3 separate regions of the Homo sapiens genome follow, and all the other regions are linked to region 1. Evidence: fine-mapped expression QTL. A gene starts in region 1. Each other region holds a variant in brackets. All regions are shown on one strand. Distances are from middle to middle.

The links. PIP is the estimated chance that this variant, and not a neighbour inherited with it, causes the effect. A credible set is the group of variants that fine-mapping cannot tell apart.
Region 2: its variant is the best candidate, but not a certain one, in a credible set for the expression of ADD3 in whole blood (TOPMed, PIP 0.65).
Region 3: its variant is the best candidate, but not a certain one, in a credible set for the expression of ADD3 in whole blood (TOPMed, PIP 0.90).

Annotation. Positions count from the first base shown.
Region 1 is chr10:110,005,799-110,011,023 of GRCh38, forward strand. It overlaps ADD3 (adducin 3), which reads left to right and starts at 2,186. Exons shown (of 15, transcript NM_016824.5): 1 at 2,186-2,501. ADD3-AS1 (ADD3 antisense RNA 1) reads right to left here and starts at 2,583. Exons shown (of 5, transcript NR_038943.1): 1 at 2,383-2,583; 2 at 159-283. RefSeq lists enhancers at 831-1,386, 1,387-1,940 and silencers at 1,769-2,198, 2,509-2,918.
Region 2 is chr10:109,937,746-109,942,970 of GRCh38, forward strand. No RefSeq gene overlaps it. Among named protein-coding and RNA genes, the nearest start is that of XPNPEP1, 17 kb to the left of the region's middle. The variant C/A (reference allele first, on the strand shown) is at 2,756.
Region 3 is chr10:110,116,260-110,121,484 of GRCh38, forward strand. ADD3 (adducin 3) reads left to right here. Exons shown (of 15, transcript NM_016824.5): 4 at 1-151; 5 at 1,083-1,163; 6 at 2,328-2,477; 7 at 2,952-3,095; 8 at 3,207-3,305. Among named protein-coding and RNA genes, the nearest start is that of MXI1, 89 kb to the right of the region's middle. The variant T/G (reference allele first, on the strand shown) is at 2,493.

The DNA of each region.
Region 1 (5,225 bases):
TACTCAGTCCACAAAACTCCCTGATTCCATCCTCTCTGCCTCTTATGAAGCAATACTAGAGAGGAAAAACAAAACCCATTCCTTTAAGAAAGATTCCGCCTCCTCTCATAAGCAAGCGCCTAATGGTAATTGTAGAGTTTACTAAGTCAAACACTTACTACTCAGCATTGAGAGAAGCTGCTGCTGCTAATGCTGCTGCTGCTGCTGCCGCCGCCGCCGCTGCTGCTGCTGCTGTTGGTCTGAGGCTGCAGTAGGTTTCTGTGCAGCATTGCAGAATCCACACCTAGAGAACAGAAGACACAGACACGTACGTCTACTACCCTTGTTAGAAGGAAGCTTTGGATCTTCGGTGGGTAAGGAGATCTATCTAGCTATTTTGTCCAGAAACTGTGAGAAAAGGAATGATCATGGAAAAGACTGTTCATCAGACATGCTTAAAATGGATTATGTTAATTTGTCTTCCTTTGGTGGTGGTGGGGGTGTCCAGATTTGCGACTAGCAAAATATAGTGAGGACTATATTCTGATAGGTGCCCTTAGGATACTTTTTTTGCTATTCATAAAAAGGCTAACCTTGATGCATGCAAAGCTTTTCATTTTTTTGCTTTTTAAATGCAAGAAAATATCCAGCCACTCCCAATATCTCTCTCAAATACTGCAGATATTTTTAAATACCAAATAAAATGTCAGGCTGAGCATTTTCTAAACAATTTTCTTCCTCAAACTAGGCAGCCTTCCCCACGATTCGTTAAGAGTATTTAAAAATAATAAGGCATGGTTGGATTTTTTGAGCAAATGGGAGATGGTGGTAGACTAAAATTTCTACAGCCTTAGTCCAGTGGAGAGAGAAAACGATAAATGCATCACAGTTTGTGTCAAGACAAGATTCATTTTCCACACTTCATATGTGGGAAGAGGAAACTACATTTTAATTAGCACATTTTTAGGGAGGAGGGGGGGGATGAAGATGAGGCGGATGGCGTGAGGTATTTGAGGGGGACGAGTCTGCAGATGAGGAAAGGAAATGAAGTGGATTGTCGCCAGTGCCTTGGAAACGAAGGGGGATAAGGGTGGGGAACGAAGTTTGTTGTGTGTGTTAGGGTGGGGTTGGCCCAAGGGACCATGAATCATTAGAATGGCGCTCGGAGGGGTGTGCTTGCAAGTGTACTGGTGCAGGAGGGACGTGGAAGTCGTGGGTGGCAGAGAAAAGTGTGCACCGCTGGGAGGTCTATTTCAAGAATAGGTTGGGATGAGAAACATGTCTGGGCGAGGGGGGTGGGAGGCCCGGTGTCACCTGTGGATGGATCCACAGCCCTGCAATTGCGTGTTGCAAAGTTTGCCCGGCCCCGCATTCATTTTGAAGGTTCTTGGCGATGCCTCGACTTTTCGCCTCAAAGAAGTGAGCTCTCATAAGGTTCAGAGGCCGGGAGCCAAAGCGGGAGTGAAGACTCTCGAGGGGTCCAAATGAAGCAGAAGCGAGAGCCCCTGTCCTCCCCCTATGTGGAGGTGAAGCAGGGGTTGTGGGGACTAGGCGCCCGCGAAGGCAGCTGTGCTGAGAGCAAAGTCCAGGCCCCACGGGGGGCGTGCGGAGGTTGAACCTTTGCAGTGGCCTCCTACAGCCCCAGCAGCCAGCGTGGGCGGCCGAGGCTGACTCAAAGCGGCGGCTCAGCCTCGGGAGTAGGAGTAGGGGGCTCGCTCATTTAGGGCGGGAGACATTTCCGAGGCGCCCCTCCTCCCCTTCGCGGTCGGGTTTCTATCGGGGTCGTTTCCCCCTCTGGCCCTCCGGGGACGCCGCGGATTCGAGCTGCACAGTCAGAAGAGGACGTTGAAAAGGCGCCAGGCAGCCGCCCCGAACCAGGCCCTCCCGGCTGCCGGGCCTGCAGGCCCCCACCGCTGCGGCTTCACGGACTTAGAGCTTGAGGGCGCGGAGGGGGCTGCGGGGGCGGGACCAGGACTCCCGAGGGGCGCTCGGGGCGGGGCCAGAGAGAGCTCGGGGCTGCCAGAGGCGAGGTCTTGAGGAGGCGGGGCCGGGAGGCTTCGGAGCCCAAGAGGCGGGGCCAGAGGCGTAGGGGGCTGCGAGGGGCGGACCTTGGGGGCGTGACCGGGGGGGGCGCTTGGGGACCTAGGGGCGGGGCGTTAGGGGGCGGGACCAAGGGACGCTCGAGGGGCGCTCGGCTAGTCCCGCCAGAGCGCGAGCCGCCAGCCCGTAACGGTCGCCAGTGTGAGGGGCGGGAGGGAAAGAAGAGGGGTTTAAATTAGATTTTTTAAAACACAGAGCAAGCGCCAGAGGCGTCGGCATCCCAGGTGTCGCCGCTTCCTGCTGCACAGGGCTCGGCGTACAGGTCCCTCCCTCCTCAAGCCCCCTCCCCTTCTCCCGCCCTACCCTCTGGGGCTCTGCGGCGCTTAAGAGGCGGCCGCAGCGGCGGATCCGGCGGCTGCTGCAGCCCGGGCGGCTGCCGAGAAGGAGGGAGGGGAAACACAAAGCCGGCTACGCGCTGCGAGGTAATCTTGCGGGGAGAGGACGCGCCGTCGTCCCGCCTCTCTTCCGGGCCGGGACGCGGGCACCCGCGCGGGGGCTAGCACTGGGGACGCTACTGGGGGTCGCGCGGGGGTAGGGAGCGGCGGCTGGCGGGGCCAAGGGGACTTCTCATTGGCTGTCCCTGCGGCCTCAGGTGAACCCTTTTCCGGGGCGGGAGTGGGGACCACGGCCAGGCCAGAGGGGAGCGTACCTGCGGGGGAGGGTCCGGGGGTGGCGGTGCACGGCCTGCGGCGCCGCCGGGTGGGCCCGACGCTTCGCGCGTCTGCTGGTTTTCCCTAGGAAGGCGGGGAGTACCAAAATCAGTTACTGGCTGAAGCTTAGGTGACCCCGGGGACCTTAAGCCCTGAAGGTGCGCTCCAGGGGAGTGAGAGGTTCCTGCGCTTAGAAAAGGTGGAGGAAAGGGAGCGAATGTTGGTTTTAGTTGTTTTTCTCCTCATTTAAAAAAAATTTTTTTTGTTACAAGTTGAAAGTGTTCAGTCACCTTTCTCCTATAATCCGCTTCCCCACCCCCCAACACAGACACACACAAACACACCGCCCCTACAAACGTATACATGTTAGGTTGAGCTTCCTGCTAGGGGTGACAAGCGAAGTTGGCAGCAGGTCTGGTGTGCTGGTGTTTGGGGCACGTCCAGCCTCTTTGGAGGTAGGCTATTATAGCTTAGGCAAGACCACAGACAGGTAGCATAATCTGGGCCTCTTTTAAAATGGCAAGAACGGCTTCAGGTGAACTTTTTTGTTGCAGAGATTTAATTGCAAGTAGGTGCCGGTTGAAAATGGGAGCGCAAGGAAAACCACTAATTTCCTTGGCACATGTGCTGTTGCAATTAACCTGGTAGAGTGTTAAGGAATTTAACTTAGCCAAGAGGCTTTGAGGGAGGATTATATGCAAGTTTGGGGAAGGAATTGATAAGATTCTGGGGTATGGGACTAGCTACATACACGTGCGTGCAAGTTTACGTTAAATTATGTAGCATTTTAGATTTAGCAGTATTAAATGGTTGCTTTTCTTGGAATGGCTTCTGACTACATAGTGCAGGGTACGTTCCTAATTTTGGCTTTAGAAGACTCCTAGTGAGAGTGTTTTTAAAGATTGAAAAAATAAGAGTACAGTGCAATTTGTCGTTTTCAAGTTAAATACTTGACTGTTAAAAATATTTGTGTAATTAAGTTATGGGACCAACCCATTTATAGGGTTAAGTTACTTAACCCTATAAATAACTGGAACATTATAAATGGAGCATTTGTAGAAAGTTTTTATATCGAAGTCTCCATTATATTGTACTTGCATTATAACTTATTTTCCTTTGCTTAAATGGAGCAGATTAACTTTATGGAAGGAGGACCAGGATAAAATAAAGGCAGCTACATTTAACTCTTCATCTTTCTGAAGAGTTCAGTCTGTGATAACACTTAAGGTGCCCAGAAGTGCTGGCATGTTGGTAATAGTTTTTAAAGAAGAAACGGGTGTATCTATTTTGAATGTTAAACATAATTTGAAGGAGTTCTTGAGATAGTTGGTTATGAGACATTCAATGTATTGCTACATTTTACATATATGATATCAGGAAATGTTTGGTGAACATTTGACATAGTTGATCATATGACACTTGGGAAATATTTTGCATGATAGAAGGATAGTATTTTCGTAATGTAAGTTTCAAGCATTGACTGAAAGGGAGAAAATTACACACTTTGCTGTCTCACCCCTTTCTTCAATATTATGCTGGCATGAATGTGAATTCTGCCTAATTATGTTTAAAGTGTAGATCTGGCCTTTGTAAAACCAGAATGTCTTTTGAGACCAAGAGAACATAACATCAGCAACAGCCCAACTCCTACACACAATCCTAAAACCTAGATACAGGGTGGTGCCCAACTTCTGAGGTTTTGAGGCTTCCTGAAGTAGGCCTATCATGTCTGAGTGCTTTTGTCACATGTAAGCCTACAGGTGGTTAGCTGGTTAATCTCTCCCATTTCAAAGCAGTTGGTTAGCAGTACTGGGTGGCATGTATGCATGTCATCAGAGTATAAGAAGTGTTTGAGGGAAGAAATCACATAAAAGCATAGAAACCTGGCTCTGAACAAACTGTGTAGCGTGTTGGGGAACAGTCACATCAGAACTTTAGCTTAACCGAGTTGTTATATGTAAAGTGCTTAGAATGGGGTTTGTATTCAGTGCTTTTTGTGTTTATCATTATCAGTATGTAAAGTGACATATCTTTTTGAAGGCTGTTAGGTCATGCTACCCAGCATGTGAAGACTCAGCAAATATTTGTAATAGCCAATATTTATTTGCCTAACCTCTGTGCCAGGCACTAAGAGTTTTATATGATTTAATTTACTTAGTCCTTCCAACAACCCAGTGGCTAAACAGAGGCATGGAGAGGTTAAGTATCTTCCCAAGGTGACACAGGTTGGTTCTGAAGCCAGAGTCTGGCCCAAGAGTGAGCCCATGTAACCACTGCCCCTTGTTGCTATTGAGCTCATGGTAATTACTGCAAACCAGTGAGAGGTCTTCATAGTATTCCCACGACTATCAGGTGCACATGTCTTGTTTAACCACATCCTCTGGTATTAATACCACCAAGTTATGCTTAAATCTAAGGAGTGGTGGTTAATCCGCATTAAATACAGTCACCTTTTGACATTGAAAGGGTATTCTCTTTTGATACACAACATATGTT
Region 2 (5,225 bases), 68 kb before region 1:
ACCATTCAGCTGAATTGTCCTCTTCCATGCAACTCACATGCCAGACCTTGTGTTGCAGTAAAAAAGGAGAAATTTCCCCCCTCATCAAATAAAAATCACTTGCAAGCAGGTCTTTTATGTGGCAAATATCTAGGTCATGTCATGTAGCCTTAGAAAGAGGGTAAGATCAACGCTTTAGAGTTTGAAGACCTAAAAATGATGGTGAGCAGGACCGAGACACCAATTCTAGATAACTTCTGAATGTATTCCCATATTTAGCAAATTTTTTTTTAGTGCTCCAATATGCCAGGCACCTAAGTGGCAGCAATAGAGCAAAAAACAAAATCGACCAAAATCTTGGCCTATGTGGAGCTTACATTCTAGTGGGAAAAGACAAGCAATAAAATAAAAATATAGTATGTAAGGCAGTGATAAGTGTTAAAGAGAAATAAAAAGGAAGGGAAGGGAAATTGGGTTGCTGGAAGTGGAGTGGGGTGTAATCTCTCTAGGAGTGTCAGGAAAGGCCTCTTTGGAAGCCTAACATTTAAAGGACGTAAAGGGGTGGGCCCTCACAGTAATGTCTTGATGCCTCAGCAGCACCAAAGTTGACAAAGTCACTGAACAGAAGAAAGAGCTGCCCTGGGTGGGATGTGCCAGTGCCCCGGAGCAGTGCCTGGCGGAGGGGACCCAGCCCAGCCTAGGCAGGTCATTTCCACAGCTAGGTTTGCAGCATCTCTCCCCTTTCCATGCTGCCTCCCACACCCTAGGATTATAGCAATACAGTTGGACATTATAAATCCAAGGAGGTCCAGGATAGCTAATGGAAGGAGCCATGGTTGGTGGGTCATGCATGCATTATCACCAGCTGCCAAGGAGCCAGGTGAGGGCAGGGGCTTTTATTATAAGTGTAATGGAATTATCAGACAGGTCCATACCACATACCGGACATGCTAGAGAGCCCTAGGGAAGGAAGCTACCAGGTATGCTGAAAATGAAAAGGAGATGTTGCAGGGCAGTAGGAGGTGTTCAGGGAAGACCATGGAGGACAATAGTTATAGCAGACTTGAAACAAAAAGGCATGGAGATATTCTGGGCTTTTAGGGAACGTTTGACCAAAATGAGGGAAAATTGAAGCTGAGTTGAGAAAGCAGTGTTAAGCTGGGTGTGATGGCTCACACCTGTAATCCCAGTGCTTTGGGAAGCCCACATGAAAGAACTGCTTGAGGCCAAGAGTTCAAGACCAGCCTGGGCAACATAGCGAGCCCACATATCTATTTTTTTTAAAATTAGCCAGGCATGGTGGCACATGCCTGTAGTCCGAACTACTCAGGAGGCTGAAGTGGGAGGATCACTTGAGCCCAGGAGTTTGAGGCTGCAGTGAGCTGTGATTGTGCCATTGCACTCCAGCCTGGGCAGCAGAGTGAGGCCATGTCTCTAAAAAAGGAAAAGAAAAAGGAAAGCAATATTGTAAATGCCCTAAGGGGCTACAGTTTTCTTAATTGGAGCTCCTAGGTTGTGGAGTTAGAGGAGGTGAGCAGGGGTGTACTGGTACAGAACTGGAAGAAAAGCAGGACAAATTAGGGTTCTGGCTCTTGGGATACCCAGTTCTGCCACATGTGAGCTGCAGGGCCTCAGCAGATCACTGTCCACACTGGGCCGTCTTCCCCTTCTCTGAAACAGGGCAGATTGGATGTACCCCAAGCCTTCCTCCTGCTATGACATTTGGAGACTATGGTAACAACTAAGGAATGATCCTCTCCTGGGCCTGCACACCCAACAGAAATATGTACATATGTTCACCAAAAGGCACGTACAATTGCAGCACTGTTCATTGTAGTCAAAAATTGGAAACTACTCAAATGTCTAAAAACAGTGAAATGGATGAATAAATTCTGGTCTATCCATACAGTTGAAAAGTGTAAAACTGTAGGAATGAAAAAGCTATGGCTGTATGCACAGTGTGAATGAATCACACAAATAGGACTCAGACATCTAAGAGTATATGCTGCGTCTGTAGGCCTTTATAAAGTTCAAAAACAGGAAACACTAAATTGTTACATTAGAAGTCAGATTAATACTTACCCTGGCTAGGGAGCTTGTGACTAAAGGAGGCCTGAGTGACACCCCCTGGCTTCTGATTATGCTCTTTCTTAATCTGGGTCTGCTTACATAGATGTGTGGACTTTATGAAAATTCCTGGAGCTATACTTTTATCATCTGTGCACCTTGTAAGTATATTATTCTACAATTAAAAATATACTTAAAAACACTTTTAGAAGAAAATATAGGTGACAATCTTTAAGATCTTGAGGTAGGGAAAAATTTTTTATATAAGACAAAAAGAACACAAATCATTAGAGAAAAAACCAATGGATTCAATTATATTTAAAAATTTTTTAATTCAGAAGGAAGCAGATACAATAACAGCAGTGCACCTGCAAACAGCTTCAGTGTGATAGGGGAATAACATAATGAATAGATTATTCATTTCATTTTGCTGTGAACTATGCCAAGCCCCTTGCAACTGTTATCCCATTGAACCATCATAACTATTCTATGAGGCCAGTGCTATTATCATCCCCATTTTGTAGATGGGTAAACTGAGGTTTGGAGGAGTTAAATTACTTGCCTATGAGCACTTGGTTGGTGAGTAGAAGTGCCAGTAATTGAATTCAAGTGGGTCTGACTTCTGAGCTTTTCATCATTTCTCAGTGACAAAGCAGGTTCAAAGGCCAGCTCGAGTGGGGAGTAAGGTCACAGGTTGCAGGTTCAGGTC[C/A]CCAACACAGTCCAGTCCCAGCAGTGTTTTCAAATAGAGCAGATAATTAGTTATGACTCCAAGCTCCCACCCCCCAAGATCAGAAGCCCAAGGTTGAATCAGAACCCTGTCCTCTTGATGGGGTGGAGTAAAAGTGAAAGGTGGGATTACGGGAATCCCATCAATCTCAATTTCAATTGAGAATTGAGAGGAGGAGGTTGGGCTCTTCTGTTGCATTCTCTGTGCCTGTTATAATCAGTGATGATGCCTTTCTCAGTTCCTCAAAAGGAATGTTCTACTCCAGCTAGTCCTCTCCCACTGAGTGTTGGCCCGGTATGCCAGGTTCATTCCAATCTCTGAACACCGTTTGTCCCACCTGGAAGACCCTTTCCCTTTCCCTCCTCTTCTATCTAATTCTGCTATACTTCCAGGCCCAGGTGGAGCCACACCTATACTCTGAAGTTGGCCTCTATTACTGCAAGCCAATACTGTCCAATAGGACTTTCTCTAGTGAGAAGGTTAATTTTGCATTTTCCCGTATAGTGGCCACTAGGTACATGTGGCTGTTGAGCACCTACTATGCCTAGTATGACTGAGAAACTACATTTTTTATTTCATTTAATTTTCTTTAATTTACATTTAAATAGGTGCTTGTGGCTAGTGGCTACCATATTGAACACACGACTTTGACTTTACCTTGTACCGACTCCCTGTATTGCTTTGATTATATTCCTTCAGGAACTGAATACGAAGTTAATAGATATTCTGCTTATTTTACTTACATAAGTCTTATCTTTAGAGCTGAACCATTAGCCTAAGAAAAGAGAAATAGGAAAAAATCTACTTGTGTGGCCATACTATTGGCACACAGTGCTGAGCATAGAGGATGTCAGTCTCAGTGAATTCCTGCTGAAATCAGTTGCTGGCTCAAAGTAGGCAGAGGTGGAATACAAGGCCTGGAGCACTTGGAGGCCTGAGTGGATGGTGCTCTGCTTCTGGGTGTGGGGTAGAAGGTGGATTCCCAGGAAGAAGTTAACAGCTCCCCTGTTACAGAAGTCAGCACCTAGAGCCTAGATGAAGACAGACTTTTGTCCTGGCCAAGTACATACTTAAACTCCTCTAAGGCCTTGCTGCCATTTCCTGGAATCCTCTTGCACCTCCCAAATGGCTCACGGTTCCAGAGCGCATGTCTGAGGCAGAGTACAGAGAAATGATTACAAAGCAGCAGTGCAGCCGTAGCAGAAGCACCTGGGGTGTTAATTAGAGGCATTAACTGTAGCATTCCTGAGAACCCATGAACTCTCTCCTCCCTTTGCCAAGCCGCAGAAACACCTTCTTTGGGATTTTCTCTCTGAAGTAGTAAGGAACAGCAGAGTGGGAAAGAGAAGCAGCTGAGCAGAAAAACCTTTGTCATGCCCCGACCCTGCAGCTTGTCCTTAGGCCCTGCCCTCCAGTCTTGGGCATTTCCCATTGGGACAGGCAATGAGGGACAGGGTCATCAGGGACACTCAGGAACAGATTGAAATGAAAGGGGCAGGCCTTTAATTATGCCTGTAATCCCAGCACTTTGGGAGGCTGAGGCAGGCAGATCATCTGAGGTCAGGAGATCAAGACCAGCCTGACCAACATGGTGAAACCCTGTCTCTACTAAAGATACAAAAATTAGCCAGGAATGGCAACGTGCACCTGTAGTTCCAGCTACTTGGGAGGCTGAGGCAGGAGAATTGCTTGAATCAGGGAGGCGGAGGCTGCAGTGAGCTGAGATCGCACCACTGCACTCCAGCCTGGGCAACAGAGCAAGATTCTGTCAAAAGAAAGAGAGAGAGAGAGAGAGAGAGAGGAAGAAAGAAATAGAGAGAGAGAAAGGAAGAAGGAAGGAAGGAAGGAAGGAAGGAAGGAAGGAAGGAAGGAAGGAAAGGGAAGGAAGGAAGGAAAGGGAAGGAAGGAAGGAAAGGGAAGGAAGGAAGAAAGAAGCAGTGGGGCCCTTGAGACAAGAAGACAAAAGAAGAGATAAAGGGGCTAAAGCCTATTAAAGAATGTTTGTGGCAGGGGTGAGTGAGAAAATAAAAAGAATGTTCATCAGTTCCTCCCAAGGCCCATGCCCACCCAGGTCAATTAGGGATTTCAAAACAGATGAAGGTCAAGTTGCAAGAGAAAGATAGAAGTGAAGATAGAAGGTCTGGGGAGGCTGGACATTGTACCAGGCAATCTGCACACTGGGCACTCCGGAAGGTCTTTGTATGGCGTTTGAAGGGGCCCTCGTACCTTCCTTCAGGGTGAGGTGGCAAATAGAGTGCAATGGAGATACCTGCTACCACCCAGGATGCCCAAACGGCCACTGGAAGATGTCCTTGGGCTGGCCCAGGATGCCCAAACGGCCACTGGAATGAGAAGAGTGGGAAGGTACCTGGATACCTGATTGCATTACAGATGGGCACCCCAAGGTGACATCGTCCTTATCCAGTCTAGGAGGGGTGTATTAGGCCATTCT
Region 3 (5,225 bases), 110 kb after region 1:
TCTTGGCATGGTCACACCTATCAATGACCTTCCTGGTGCAGATACATCCTCATATGTGAAGGGAGAAAAACTTACTCGCTGTAAACTTGCCAGCCTGTACAGACTTGTAGACTTGTTTGGATGGGCACACCTGGCAAATACCTATATCTCAGTGAGTTCTTCAGCTTTCAATTCCTTTTTTAAAAAATTCCAGCTAGAAGGCAACTATACTCTTCTTACCTTTACCTGGAAGTCCAGTTTTCAGACTTATTCTCTAAACCTAGTATGCTAGATCACAACCAAATACTGATTTAAACCTTATACCCAAGGGAGAGGCTCCAATTCCCCCACCTTTCTTCTCCCCTTACTATCTATGTTGTTCCAAGTTCCTTTGGTTCAGACCAACTGTAGAATCTATCCAGGAAGAAATCCTTCTGGCAAAATTGTCCCTCTCCATGATAATTATGTCTGAGCATCAGTGGCTTTAAAAAGCATTTGAGGCAAGGAAGATAGAGGAGGTCAGGGAAGTTTCCTCCCTGGTCTTTATTTTTAAAATATATTCTTTCCATTCACCATCATATTTTTATTTTGCCACACTTGGAAAAAGATGCTATTTGGAAACAAAAGAGGATTAAAATATTGTACAATGGAAATGGTACAGATGCAGTCCATCAAGAATCTTTCTTCCTTTCCACCTTCCATCTTTATTTTAATTCCTTCCTAGGAAGAGATTTTGTTCTCTTTCCTTTGCCCATTTTGCCTTAACTTCCAAGTTATAAATTAAGGTTATAATTATTACCACATTGGCTTGAATAATATTAGCATTTATTTTTCATGAACATAGCTGACCCTAAATAACCTTAGAGCCCCAAAATAACACTTTTAGGTAAGTCCAGTAAATAAGAAACTAAAGTCAGAATTTTTTAGCAAGTACTTGAGGGAAACTTTAGGAAAGTTTCATGTTGTAGACCTTTAATTTTTGCTTTGTTGGTTTTTTTTTTCCTGATCTCTTACAATTATTCATTGTAAATATATTTGTAGTCATGTTTCCACTGCAAAATATGAACCACTTCATAGTAATTCCCTGTTGTTTTTTTTTCCAGGTAAGAATAAGTAAGGAGCAAGACCACATTATAATAATTCCCAGAGGCCTATCTTTTTCTGAAGCTACAGCCTCCAATTTGGTATAATTTTCCATTCCTGTGTTGCTTTTTCTGAGCTTTCTTTGGCTTTTCTGACAGTTCTTAGCTTTTAGCACAGGACAGAATAAGAAGGTATGGATGGAAAAACATTTACTAGTGAACAGTGAAGGGAATTTGAACTATGTTGTTTTAGGGAAAAGCTTTAGAGAATAGCGTAATTGAAGAGACTAATAAATGAGTTGGTCTTATCAGTTAACTTGTCTATGTTTTGAAGGGAATCGTGATTTTTTTTTTTTTACCACCCTATACACTCAGAAATTTGTGTAAAAAAATTGTGTAAAAAAAACACACACGGCCAGGTGCAGTGGCTCACGCCTGTAATCCAAGCACTTTGGGAGGCTGAGGCAAGTGGATCACGAGGTCAGGAGTTCAAGACCAGCCTGACCAACATGGTGAAACCCCATCTCTACTAAAGATAACAAAAAATTAGCTGGGCGTGGTGGCACACACCTGTAATCCCGGCTACTCGGGAGGCTGAGGCAGGAGAATCGCTTGAATCCATAAGGTAGAGGTTGCAGTGAGCCAAGATCGCACCATTGCACTCCAGCCTGGGCTACAGGGCGAGACTCTGTCTTCAATACACACACACACACACACACACACACACACACACACACACACACACACACACACAATGTTCATAGCTAGATTTAAACAAAGTTCAGCTGGTATGAGTATAGGATCTGACCTTAGTATTTTATCTTTTCCATGACTACTCCTAGCCACTGTCATCAGCTTACAGAGTGACAGGAGCTACCTTGGTTCTGGGTGCTTGCTGCAATGTTAGCAAATAGAAGTTTTCTAGCCAATTCTATACATGCCAGACTTGTTCAGACCTCCGATGAAGAGCTTAAGTTTCTCCTTTTCTTGGAAACTGTACTTCTTGCCAAGTACCAAGTTTTGTTGCACCTGTTTTATAAATAAAGTTTTATGGGAACAAAGCTATACCTGTTAACTTACAGATTGTTTATGGCTGCTTTTGTACTGCAGCTGCAGATTTGAGTAATTGCAGCAGAGGCCCACAAAGTCCAAAATATTTGCTATCTGACCTTTTACAAAAAGGTTTGCTACCCCCTGGTTTAGCTTGTGAAACACAAACTTTGATACGTATATACCAGTTAAATATGTCCTTCTGATTTTTTCCAGGTGAAAGTCAATATAATAGGAGAAGTGGTTGACCAGGGAAGTACCAATTTGAAAATTGACCATACAGGATTCAGTCCCCATGCTGCAATCTATTCAACACGTCCTGATGTTAAGTGTGTGATACACATCCATACCCTTGCAACAGCAGCTGTAAGTCAATGAAAG[T/G]CCAAAACTGACAGGACGCTGGAAGATGTATTATTTTTGTGGCTTTCTCAACAGGATGCTTTACTATCTGCTTTTCAAAATCATATTTGATACAATAATCTGCATACCCAGAAAGCAAAAGGCCTTTGGGACCAAATGCTACCATTCTAGGAAACAACTGGAGAAATAACATTTGGATTCTAAAACTAACCAGTTTGAAAATTGGGTCATTGAGTTTTTTGGAGCAAAGCTTCTTTCATAATATTTGACACAGCATATAAGTTGAGTTGTATTCCCTAAGTCCTTTTTGTGTGTGTGTGGAAGAAACAAAATGGGAAGTGAATAAAGTGGGAAGTGGGCTGCAATGGTGAAACACAGTGAATAGGCCAGTGTTTTCCTGAGCTGACCAAACAATCAGGTTCCTATGAAAATGTATTTAGTAACCAAATGTGTTATCTTGGTATGGGCCAAACCAAATAGGTATCCTCCATGAAATGTGGGATCCTTCCAATTTCTCAAGAGTCTCTTCTTCTGGGAGATGTTGCCTATTATGACTACCAAGGGTCACTTGAAGAACAGGAGGAGAGAATTCAACTGCAGAAGGTTCTGGGACCAAGTTGTAAGGTATGTAGTAGAGTTTGTCTAAGGAGCTATTTTTGTTGCTGCTGCTGTTGATGAAAACAGTGTGAGCTATGCCAGTTATTTCAAGTGATTGCTGTGGGCATTCTATTTTAGGTGCTGGTACTCAGGAATCATGGTGTGGTTGCACTTGGAGAAACATTAGAGGAGGCTTTTCATTATATTTTTAATGTGCAACTAGCCTGTGAGATTCAGGTAGGAAACATTATTCCCCTTTTTTAATTGCTTTGTTATTTGCTCGTTTAGTTGGATTTTGTGTACTTATTTGCAAATACATATTAGTTAGTGGCTTTTTGTCTTTTAAGAGAAGTTCTGCTCTACTTATGTAGGCAGGGTTTTCAACTCAGTTATCTCTTGAATTGAAAATAGGAGTAAAGGAAATTAAAATTTTCTCACACACAATCTAAGGGCCTCATAAACATCATTTTCCCTACAATCCTGCTTTTTAAGTTAGTACAATTGCATATTTCTGTTTTCACCCTGTAGTGGTGGTACTAATTAAGGAAGAAAAACAGCTGCAAATCAAGAATCAAATGTGTTGTGGTCACTTTTGTAAAAAGTTTGACTAGGTCCAGAAGTTATATGAAATTGCAGTTTTCAACAATTCCACAGCCTCATTATGATGAGAGGTTGGATATTTATTAATCATTTTTTTCATCAGAGATGTTGAATGTATTTAAAGGCCCTAATTTTCTTTTTCTTTTTCTTTTTTTTTTAATTATACTTTAAGTTTTAGGGTACATGTGCACATTGTGCAGGTTAGTTACATATGTATACATGTGCCATGCTGGTGCGCTGCACCCACCAACTCGTCATCTAGCATTAGGTATATCTCCCAATGCTATCCCTCCCCCCTCCCCCCACCCCACCACAGTCCCCAGAGTGTGATATTCCCCTTCCTGTGTCCATGTGATCTCATTGTTCAATTCCCACCTATGAGTGAGAATATGCGGTGTTTGGTTTTTTGTTCTTGTGATAGTTTACTGAGAATGATGATTTCCAATTTCATCCATGTCCCTACAAAGGACATGAACTCATCATTTTTTATGGCTGCATAGTATTCTATGGTGTATATGTGCCACATTTTCTTAATCCAGTCTATCATTGTTGGACATTTGGTTGGTTCCAAGTCTTTGCTATTGTGAATAATGCCGCAATAAACATACGTGTGCATGTGTCTTTATAGCAGCATGATTTATAGTCCTTTGGGTATATACCCAGTAATGGAATGGCTGGGTCAAATGGTATTTCTAGTTCAAGATCCCTGAGGAATCGCCACACTGACTTCCACAATGGTTGAACTAGAGAGCCCGCATCGCCAAGTCAATCCTAAGCCAAAAGAACAAAGCTGGAGGCATCACACTACCTGACTTCAAACTATACTACAAGGCTACAGTAACCAAAACAGCATGGTACTGGTATCAAAACAGAGATATAGATAAATGGAACAGAACGGAGCCCTCAGAAATAACGCCACATACCTACGACTAGCTGATCTTTGACAAACCTGAGAAAAACAAGCAATGGGGAAAGGATTCCCTATTTAATAAATGGTGCTGGGAAAACTGGCTAGCCATATGTAGAAAGCTGAAACTGGATCCCTTCCTTACACCTTATACAAAAATCAATTCAAGATGGATTAAAGATTTAAACGTTAGACCTAAAACCATAAAAACCTTAGAAGAAAACCTAGGCATTACCATTCAGGACATAGGCATGGGCAAGGACTTCATGTCCAAAACACCAAAAGCAATGGCAACAAAAGACAAAATTGACAAATGGGATCTAATTAAACTAAAGGCCCTAATTTTCTCTTTAAATCAAGCAGATTTGGCCAGGCACGGTAGCTCATGCCTGTAATCCCAGCACTTTGGGAGGCTGAGCTGGGTAGATCACCTGAGGTCAGGAGTTCGAGACCAGCCTGACCAACATGGAGAAACCCCGTCTGTACTAAAAATACAAAATTAACAGGGCGTGGTGTCATGTGCCTGTAATCCCAGCTACTTGGGAGGCTGAGGCGGGAGAATCGCTTGAACCCGGGAGGCGAAGTTTGCAGTGAGCCGATATCGTGCCATTGCACTCCAGCCTGGGCAACAAGAGTGAAACTCAGTCCTC